2 separate regions of the Homo sapiens genome follow, and region 2 is linked to region 1. The links come from fine-mapping of genetic effects on gene expression. A gene starts in region 1. The other region holds a variant in brackets. All regions are shown on one strand. Distances are from middle to middle. Region 1 holds the start of KTN1-AS1 (KTN1 antisense RNA 1). Region 2 has its middle 35 kb from the start of KTN1-AS1.

The links. PIP is the estimated chance that this variant, and not a neighbour inherited with it, causes the effect.
Region 2: its variant is the best candidate, but not a certain one, in a credible set for the expression of KTN1-AS1 in whole blood (TOPMed, PIP 0.65).

The regions. Positions count from the first base shown.
Region 1 is chr14:55,578,032-55,583,031 of GRCh38, forward strand. KTN1-AS1 (KTN1 antisense RNA 1) reads right to left here and starts at 2,061. Exons shown (of 3, transcript NR_027123.1): 1 at 1,905-2,061; 2 at 575-706. KTN1 (kinectin 1) reads left to right here and starts at 2,176. Exons shown (of 44, transcript NM_001079521.2): 1 at 2,176-2,323. RefSeq lists enhancers at 1,401-1,520, 1,531-1,620 and silencers at 2,061-2,320, 2,381-3,020, 3,200-3,494.
Region 2 is chr14:55,542,293-55,547,814 of GRCh38, forward strand. It overlaps the pseudogene RPL7AP4 and the pseudogene ABI1P1. Among named protein-coding and RNA genes, the nearest start is that of KTN1-AS1, 35 kb to the right of the region's middle. The variant A/T (reference allele first, on the strand shown) is at 3,162.

The DNA.
Region 1 (5,000 bases):
TCAAGCGATCCTCCTGCTCAGCCTCCCCAGTAGCTGGGATTATAGGCACCTGCCACCATGCCCAGCTAAGTTTTGTATTTTTAGTAGAGCTGGGGTTTCACCATGTTGGCCATGGTGGTCTCGAACTCCCGACCTCAGGTGATCCACCCAGCTCGGCCTCCCAAAGTGCTGGGATTACAGGTGTCAGCCACTGCGCCCGGCCTCTAGTAAATCTTTTTGTTTTGATGTGAATAAATAGAAAGCTTATAAAAAATAAAGCATTCAACCACTTCCCTTTCTATAGTCAAAGTTCAAACGCCAGAAAAGCCGAAATAGGTGATACAAAGTCATCCTTTAGTATAAGCAGTAGTATGTTTTGAGAAAATCCTAAACTCCACTCATTGTCTTACTTACAAGTGCACCGAAATATTATTGCCTGTAAATGACATTGCGGTTTTACTGGTCAGGAAAATGAATGATATAAATTTTTAATTCTAACCTAAAACCTGCGTTAGTACTAACCTGAGGAAATAACATGGTTGTTTGTAAGCTAATCAAGAGCCCTTAAACTCCATTACATAAATGATACACTTACCCTTTGTATTAAGGGACTAACGGCTTCGCTTTTCAACAAAGCTGGATCTTCTGGCACACGCTCAGAAGATAGCCAGTACTTCAGAGACAGATTGCTTTGAGGGCACTGGAACCGCTGAGGGGCAGAGTAATCCTAATGAGAAAGAAAAAAGAGGACGCCTCTGGAGTTAAAATAAGACAATGCATCTGTGGAGAACACGGTGACTGAAGACTGGCAGAATTCTCAATATCTCAGGCCACTATACACTGCGCAGTTTTCATTTGTATTTTGGAGGTGCTCTAGAAAACTTAGAAATGATTAGAATAAAAAGTATGGATACTTTTAACCAGCCCATGTACAGGAAATTCTGTTGGTGTAGAAACGGTTCTGCTGTTCATTCCTTAACTGCTTCTGTTCCCACTTTGTCAGATGTAGGGCGAGGTGGTGGTGGTGAGTCCTAATTTTTTCTATCTCTATCCACAGTCTGGAATCGTTAGGATTATTTTAAGCCTTCATAACATTTGCGGACAGCTTGGAGTGTTTTGTACATGTAGTGGGGCAGTGCCTGGCCTCCTGTGAGAGATTGATCATCGGTAAACAATCCACACGAAACTCACTTGCCAGTGGACGGGGAGGATCGCTGCCATCCTTTCAGCAAAGAGCAAACGAATAAGGAGAGATCCGGGCCCATCCCTCCTCGCGCAGCAGTTTCTAGATTTTTACCCCGGCTTCATAAATGGCTACCAGCTGGCAGTCACAACACTTTCATAATGTTTGCACACAACTCATTTGGGTCGCTTTCTTTTCTTTCCTTTTTTTTTTTTTTTTTTTGAGAGAAACGGAGAGTCTTACTCTCTCGCCCAGGCTGGAGTGCAGTGGCGAGATCTCGGCTCACTGCAACCTCCGCCTCCTAGATTCCTGCGATTCTCCTGTCTCAGCTTCCCAAGTAGCTGGGGCTACAGGCGTGCGCCACTATGCCCAGCTAATTTTTTGTACTTTTTTTGGCAGAGACGGGTTTTACTATATGTTGGCCAGGCTGGTCTCGAACTCCTGACCTCAGGTGATCCGCCTGCCTTGGCCTCCCAAAGTACTGGGGTTACAGGCGTGAACCACCGCGCCCGACCATTATTTGGGTCGCTTTCTAATTTCTTTCTCCGTTTGTAGCTAGCGTTGCCCGAAGGAGATTTCAGAGAGATCCCCTGGAGAAAGGGACGGGGGATGTCGTTTTCCAGTAATTTCTGGGGGAAATCTGGGATAGTCAGGGGGTAAATCTAGTGCCGTTTGCTGAAGTTAAAAGGCGTGGGGAGCCAGGTGGTGCCCTGGAGGGAGGGCCGCGCGAGACGAGACCAACCTTCGGGACAGGGGAGAGCGGGGCTACTGAACGCAGGGGATTCCGCTGAGCCTCCAGCCCCTGAGCGTCCACCTTCGGCCCAGCTGGGGGACGCGGTCTCGGGAAGAAAGCCCGGAATCCCGAGCCGGCCAGCCGCGAGCAGCGAGTACCGGAGCGCGTGGGCAGGCGCGCGGAGGCAGAGGCGGGCCGGCGGCTGTCCCTTTAAGGGGCCGGTCTCCCGGCGCCGCCGGCCCAGACGCCAGGACGTGCCGGGTCCGCCCCGCCCCGCCCCGAAGCCGCCCGTTTCCTGCCGAGCGGCGCGACGGCACCTGAGCGACTGCGGCGGCGGCGGCGGCGGCGGCGGCGCCTCGGAGCGGGCGGCCCGGGCTGTAGTGCCGGCGCCGCCGCGTCTTCCCGGTCTCCTTTCCCGGCCGCACAGGGTGAGGGAGAGCAGGCCGCACCGGGACGGGCGCCGGCGGCGGGGAGCGCGGGGGGAGGCGGCGCCGGCCGCGGGGTCCTGGGGCAGGCGGGAGGGCCGCGCCGGGCGGGGGGGCGCGGCCGCGGGGCCCGGACGCCGCCCGCTGGGTAGGCCTCGGGCATCCGGTTGCCGCCGCGGGGCTCTTGTTGGGGCCGGGACGCCGCAGGGGGCGGGCTCGGAGGGACCTCCTCGGCCTCGCGGGGCCGCTCTGGGCCCGACCCCGGCTCTGTCGCGGCACCCGGGGCGCGGCCGAGGGACACCCCCCACCCTCCCCAAGGACGACTCTCCCGAAGGCGAGGTCGACCCGAGCGGGCCCTGGGGTGACCGAGGCACCTATTTTTAGCCAAGCCTGAGGGCCCCCGGGAGGGAAGGCGGATTACCGCCTCCTCGGCCGGTGGACGGAGGCAGCGCGTCTCCGGCGGCGTCCCCGGGCCGGAGCTGGGCCACACTTACGCCATGCTGGAGTTCCAGTCCTCGCCGCTGCCTCCGGCGGTCTGGGCGCTCGCCCCCTTCCCCGGCGCCCCTCCCGCTGCCCTTTGCGAGTCCCCAGGTCAGGGCGGGAGGCGGTTGGGCACGGAAAGCAGCATGAGGGGGGACTTTGGAAAAATCCATGGACCACTCTCGACACCGGCGAAGTTATCCCTTCCTGTCCCCGAGGGGTGTGTCCTAGCGATTCGGCCTGACCCCTTCAGTTTCCAAAAGTGAGATTTTTGGCCTTGGGGACCTCGCCGGAAAACTACGCGGGAAGTCTAGAGAAGTCGTCTGGCTCTCAGCCATACGTCTGGTGTGGGATGTGCAGCCCCGCATGCTGGCGGTGAAGGCGCTGGGTGCACTAGATGTGGGCAGCCCCGGACGCGGGCAGCGGCGTCCCAGCCGGCCCCAGTTGCACCTTGACTAGGTTAGGTTGAAAGTAAGCTGTTCAGTGTTGGCCCTTCTTTCCTGTGGGAGGAAGGAGGAATCTAAATTCAGAACTGTGTTGGCAAACGGATTCCTTAGCCGCTATTTAAGTTAGTAGTGCTTAAAGAGCTACGGTTGAAGTTAACTGTTAAGGTGTGTGTGTGTGTGTGAGTGTGTGTGTGTGATGACTTTGTGGAAAGCCTTGAGTAAAGAGCTACGGTTGAAGTTAACTGTTAAGGTGTGTGTGTGTGTGATGACTTTGTGGAAAGCCTTGAGAAATGTAGACACTCATGGCCAGCCCAGCTAAAGATAAGCATCTTCGGTGAACTAAAGGTTCTGAATTGTATAGGAGTTGACTTAAAGTTAGAATTTTTGCTAAATTAGGTTGCATTTGTTTTCCTTAGCTTACCTAGCAGGCTAATGGCAACAGTGTCTCCAGTTTGGTCCGAAGCAATTGCTGGTGAGACTTGGGATAATGATCCCAAGCTGGTGAGACTTGGGATAATGATCCCAAGAATAACACTAAATTACTCTTGAGTATTTTGGGTAGACATGCCTTGCAGTAGACTTTCATATTTGATGTGCTGCCTGATAAAAAAGGCTCTTTTTTTTTTTCCTTTTTCCTTTTTTTTTAGTTTAAGGATCTAACCTGAAATAGCTGGGTCTGTTCATGAGTTTCCCTCCCACCCCAACATTGAGTTTCAAATGTCTCTTCTAATTTTGTAGCCTTCATCAGACATAACAATACCTTATCAAGTGAGCTTAGAGAATAAGGTGTTCTACTTGATTTACTTGAGGCTGATAATGAATTTGAAAATATAACAAGATCTATTGAAAAATTTTCTTAATACTTGAAAATTATAAAGAATATCAAGTATTTAACTCTTAATGATTCAGCGTCAGCATTATGAAGAGACATTTACGATTTTGTTTCCAATTTAGATCTTTCTGTATTCTTTTAATACCAGTAGTCTCTTCTGTTTGATGTTGTGTTTGTCCCTAAAAATGCCTCACTTCAGTCTCCCTTCTAGTTTATAGGCTTTAATCTGCTTTTGGTAGGGAGATCGTTTTAATAATTATATTTTTAATATCAGTCAATATGGCTTTTTAAAAGAGCCTAAGACGTGAAAACCTTTTTGAGACTTCTAAAGAACCCATATTAAGATTGTCACTGTTCTTAAGTTCTTAACTTGAATGTTAAGTTATGGTTAAAAGTTCTTAATCAGCCTGTCATGGTTAAGATGACACGTAGAATACTGAATCATAATTGTTTTTTTAAAAGTTGAATGTGTCTTATACATTTCCTATGTGTAAGTTAATTTCTTAACTTGAATGGAACATGTGTTTTTAATTGTATGCCTATAATTTTTATAGCAAATGAAGTTTTAACCTGAAAGATCTCCAATACTTTGTTAAAATATTAAATTGTTAATGAACTTAAGTGGTTCTAGGAAGGTTTTGGTTCTCTTGGGAATCTGACCTAATATGTAATAAGGAAATGAGAAAAATCGTGCTTTGCAAGATCGTTCATATATTTGAGAATACACCTTATGACCTGCTTGTTCTCTGTACTGTTTTTAGTGACTTTGAAGGTAAATCCAGAGTATACTTAGAGGATACAAGCAAGTAACTATTTCTCTAGAAGTGACATTGGTGATCACTCATGCTCAAAGAGAATTGCATTTCATTGCTTCCTCTTTCAGTTCCTGTGAACATGACTTTGTCCCAATCAAAAAATGTAA
Region 2 (5,522 bases), 35 kb before region 1:
GGTGGGGATGGGGGCACACTTTTGTGAGTTTTACTTCTGGGAACTCTACCAGCTCCTCACAATAAATATCGGATAATGTTATTGGATAATAAAGGAATAGGAACAATATTTGAAGCAATAATGACTGAGAATTTCCCCCAAATTAATGTCAGACACCAAACCACAGATCCAGGAAGCTCAAAATCAAGCAAGATAAATGCCAAAAACATTGCAACTATACATACGATATTAGATCATAAATATTGTGCTTCTGGCAGGGGGAGGGGAAAAAGAAACCATTTTGAAATACACCAGAGCGTTTTATTTTTCCTAACAAGGCCTGCCTCAGGAGAAACTATTTTACCAGAGCCCTACTTGCTGGGGCTTTATCACGGCCTAACCTACCTGGGGGAAGTGAAAGACCCAACTCCAGCCTCCTCTAGCTATCTTGTCTCACCTAAGAGGAAAAACACCTGAAAAGCACTTGTGAAGTTCACAGTGCAGGGGCACAGGCTCAACAAAAGACTGAGACCAGGCTGGGTGCAGTGGCTCACAACTGTAATCCTAGCACTTTGGGAGGCTGAGGCGGGCGGATCACCAGAGGTCAGGAGTTTGAGACCAGCCTGGCCAACGTGGTGAAACCCCGTCTCTACTAAAAATACAAAAATTAGACAGGCATGGTGGTGCATGCCTACAATCCCAGCCACTTGGGAGGCTGAGGCAGGAGAATTGCTTGAACCAGGGAGGCAGAGGTTGCAGTGAGCTGAGATTGCGCCACTGTACTCCAGCCTGGGCGACAGAGCAAGACTCTGTCTCAAAAAAAAAAAAGAAAGACAACAACAATAAAAACTGAGACCTAATCGTAGGACTATAGAACACTTCCTCCCCCTCCGCCCAGACACCTTACCACTGCATTACTAAAATCCTATTTACTTTACTTTTTTTTTTTAAAACTCAGTACACCATGTTCACCTTTAACAAAAGCTTAAAAGGCATACTAAAAGGCAAAAAATGCTGTTTGAAGAGACTGAATGAGCATCAGAACCAGACTCAGATATGACAGGAATGTTGGAATTATCTGACTAGGAATTTAAAAAACTATAATTGCTCTCTCCTCCTGCCACCCAAGATGCTGAAAAGAAGGCCAAGGGCAAAAAGGTGGCTCTGGCCTCTGCTGTCGTAAAGAAGCAGCAGGCCAAGAAAGTGGTGAATCCCTGTTTGAGAAAAAGCCTAAGAATTCTGGCATCGGACAGGACATCCGGCCTGAAAGCGAGCTCACTCGTTTTGTGAAATGGCCCCACTATATGAGGGCAGAGAGCCATTCTCTATAAGCGGCTGAAAGTGCCTCTTGCGATTAACCAGTTTACCCAGGACCTGGAAGGCCAAACAGCTACTCAGCTGTTTAAGCTGGCCCAGAGACAAAGCAAGAGAAGCAGCAGAGGCTGTTGGCCCTGGCTGAGAAGAAAGCTCTGGGCAAAGGGGGCATCCCCACTAAGAGACCACCGGTCCTTCGAGCAGGAGTTAACACCGTCACCACCTTGGTGGAGAACAAGAAGGCTCAGCCCGTGGTGACTGCACAGGATGTCGAGCCCATCAAGCTGGTTGTCTTCCTGCCTGCCCTGTGCCATAAAATGGAGGTCCCTTACTGCGTTATCAAAAGGAAGGCAAGGCTGGGATGTCTAGTCCACAGGAAGACCTGCACCAATGCTGCTTTCACACAGGTTAACTCGGAAAACAAAGGGGCTTTGGCTAAGCTGGTGGAAGCTATCAGGACCAATTACAATGACAGATCTGATGAGATCTGCCGTCACTGGGGAGGCAAGGCCCTGGGTCCCAAGTCTGTGGCTCACATTGCCCATATGGAAAAGGCAAAGGCTAAAGAACTTGCCACCAAAGTGAGTTAAAGGTACACTGTTGAGTTTTCTGTATATAAAAATAATTAAAATAATACAAATTCTCCCAAAAAAACTATAATCGATAAGCTAAGGGTTTTAATGATAAAAGTAGACAACATGGAATAGACAAATAACATAAACAGAGAGATGAGTATTCTAAAAAAATGCTAGAGATATGAAAAGACTGTTACAGAAATGAAGAATGCCTTTGATGGGCTCATTAGAGACTGGATATGGCTAAGGAAAGAATCTCTGAGCTAGAGGATATGGCAATAGGAACTTGTAAAACTGAAAAGCAGAGAGAAAAAAGACTGAAAAATCAGAACACAATATTCAAAACTGTGGGACAACTACAGAAAGTATAGCATATACATAAATGGGAATACCAGAAGGATAAGAAAGGAACAGAAGCAATATTTGAAGCAATAAAGACTGAGAATTTCCCCAAATTAATGTCAGACACCAAAGCACAGATCCAGGAAGCTCAGAGAACATCAAGCAGGATAAATGCCAAAAAAAAAAAAAAAAAAAAAATTACAACTAAACATATTATATTCAAATTTCAGATGAAGACAAAGAAAAATTTGAAAAGAGCCAGAGAAACAATAATCTCCCTTTTGAGGAAGAAAGATAAGGATTACATATGACCTCTCCACAGTAACCATGCAAACAAGAAGAGAATGGAGTAAAATATTTAAAAGTACTAAGAGGAGGAAAAAAAATCCACCAACCGGCTGGGCGTGGTGGCTCATGCCTATAATCCCAGCACTTTGGGAGGCTGAGGCCGGTGGATCACCTGATGTCAGGAGTTCGAGACCAGCCTGGCCAACATGGTGAAACCCTGTCTCTACTAAAAATAAAAAACTTAGCTGGGCATGGTGGCGCATGCCTGTAATCCCAGCTACTCGGGAGGCTGAGGCAGGAGAATCACTTGAACCTGGGAGGCAGAGGTTGCAGTGAGAGATCATGCCACTGCTCTCCAGCCTGGCCCACAGAGCAAGACTTTGTCTCAAAAAAAAGAAAGAAAGAAAAGAAAAGAAAAGAAACCAACTTACATAATGATAAAAGGGTCAGTATTCCAAGAAGACATAATAATCCTTAATATGTATGCACCTAACTATAGGACATCAAAATACATAAAGTGAAAACTGATAGAATTGCAAGGAGAAATAGATGAACCCACTATTATAGTTGGAGATTTTAACACCCCTGTATCAGAAATGGACAAATACAGCAGACAGAAAATCAGTAAGTACATAGTTGAACTTAACAGCACCATCCATCAAC[A/T]GGATATAGTTGGTATCTGTAGATTACTTCATCCAATAACAGGAGAAGATAGATTCTTCTCAAGATTCCATGGAACATTCACCAAGGCAGACCCATTTAATTTTTAACAAATTAAAAAGAATAAAAATCATACAATATCTCCTCTCAGACCACAATGAAATTAAACTTAGAAATCAATAACAGAAAGATATCTGGAAAATCCCCAAATACTTGGAGATTAAACACTTCGAAATAACACATAAGTCAAAAAAGAAATCTCAAGAAAAATTAAAAAATATTTTGAACTAAATGAAAGGAAAATACAACTTATCAAAATTTGTGGGATGCAGTGAAAGCAGTGCTTAGAAGGAAACTTATAGCATTAAATAAATATATTAGAAAAGAAGAAAAATCTACAATCAATCATCTAAGCTTCCACCTAAGTAAACTAGAAAAGGAAGAGCAAATTAAATTCGAAGTAAACAGAAGAAAAGAAATAATAAACATTTGAGCAGCAATCAATGAAACTGAAAACAGGAAGTCAATAGAGAAAGTCAATAAAATCAGTTTTTACAAAAAAGCTAGTTTTTTGTAAAGGTCAACAAAAGTAATAAGCCTCTAGCCAAGCTAAGAAAAATAGAGAGAGAACAAAAATGACTAATATCAGAAATGAAAAAGAGTACATGACTGCAGATCCCATAGATATTATTAATACATGGATGATAAAGGAATATTATGAACAGTTCTATATCCAGAAATTTGATAACCTAGATAAAAATGGACCAATTTCTTGAAAGACACTATCTGCCAAAACTCATGCAAGAAGAAATAGATGATCTGAATAGACTTGTGTCTACTACATAAATTGAATCAATAGTTAATAACCTTCCAAAACAGAAAGCCCAGATGGGTTCACTGGTAACTTTGCCAAACATTTAAGGAAGAAATTACATTAATTATTTACAGTCTCTTCTAGAAATAGAAGCAGAAGTAGTACTTCTTTACTCATTCTGTGAGGCCATAATTATCTTACTACCAAAATCAGACAAAGGCATTACAAGAAAACTACAGATATATCTCTCATGAACATAGATACAAAAATCCTCAACAAAATATTAACAAATTGACAATACCAGGTGGCAAGGTGGTTTGGATCCAGGCTATGAGGTGCTGGGAGCCTCAGTAGAACTTTCTGCCTCTGTTTCTTTAATGCAAGAGGAACCGATACAGAAGGGTGGAAAATGGCAGAGCTGCAGATGTTACTAGAGGAGATCCTGTCTCACAAGAGGGCACTGATAGAGAGTTACCAGAACCTGAACCAGGTGGCGAACTACTGTGAAGACAAGAGAAAAGCTTTAGAAGAGACCAAAGCCTACATAACCGGACCTCCAGTTAGTGTCACTTATCAAAAAACTACAGTGTCTAACAATGTACTCCAGTTGGTGAACATCCAAGCCTTTCAACTTTGAAGAATGGAGTCTTTCATCAATCATATCTCACAGATCATGGATATTAATAAAGAGAAAGTAGCTCGAAGAGATATTGGTATTTGGACAACAAATAAGACTACATCAAGAATTCACAAAATAATAGCGCCTGCAAATATGGAGCGTCTTATAAGGTATGTTTGGATACCTATTGCCTACACAGTTCTGAATGATGTGAACCATGGTGCCAAGCATGTAAATAACCAGCCTGCAAGAATTGGCACACTGCCAGCCAGGCGCAGTGGCTCACACCTGTAATCCCAGCACTTTGGGAGGCCAAGGTGGGTGGATCACCTGAGGTCAGGAGTTCACGACCAGCCTAGCCAATGTGGTGAAACCCTGTCTCTACTAAAAACACAAAAAATTAGCCAGGTGTGGTGGCGGGTGCCTGTAATCCCAGCTACTCGGGAGGCTGAGGCAGGAGAACTGCTTGAACCCGGGAGGCGAAGGTTACAGTGAGCTGAGATCGTGCTACTGCACTCCAGCCTGGGTGACAGAACAAAACACTGTCTCAAAAAAAAAAAAAAAAAAAAAAAGAATTGGCACACTGCCAAGAACAAGAGCAAATCCTTCTTTCCAAAACCACCAAGTCCTCTCGTATGAGGCCAGGGATTACTGGGACAGAATACTCCTTATAAAACCCTGGAACCCATTAAACCCCAACTGTTCCTAATGACTATATGATGCATCCTGCTAGGTTTGGAAGTCATCATAGTCCAGGCAGGTCAGCTTCATTAAATCAGAAACCAAGGCAGACAATGAAAGTAGTGGAGGAAGGGAAGTCAAGAAAACAGAGGAAGCAGTAGTGTTAGTATTCACATAGCTGTACCTATACCTTCACCCCCTATTATTGGATAGTTTAACTCCTCCACCACCGACACCACCAGATAATGTT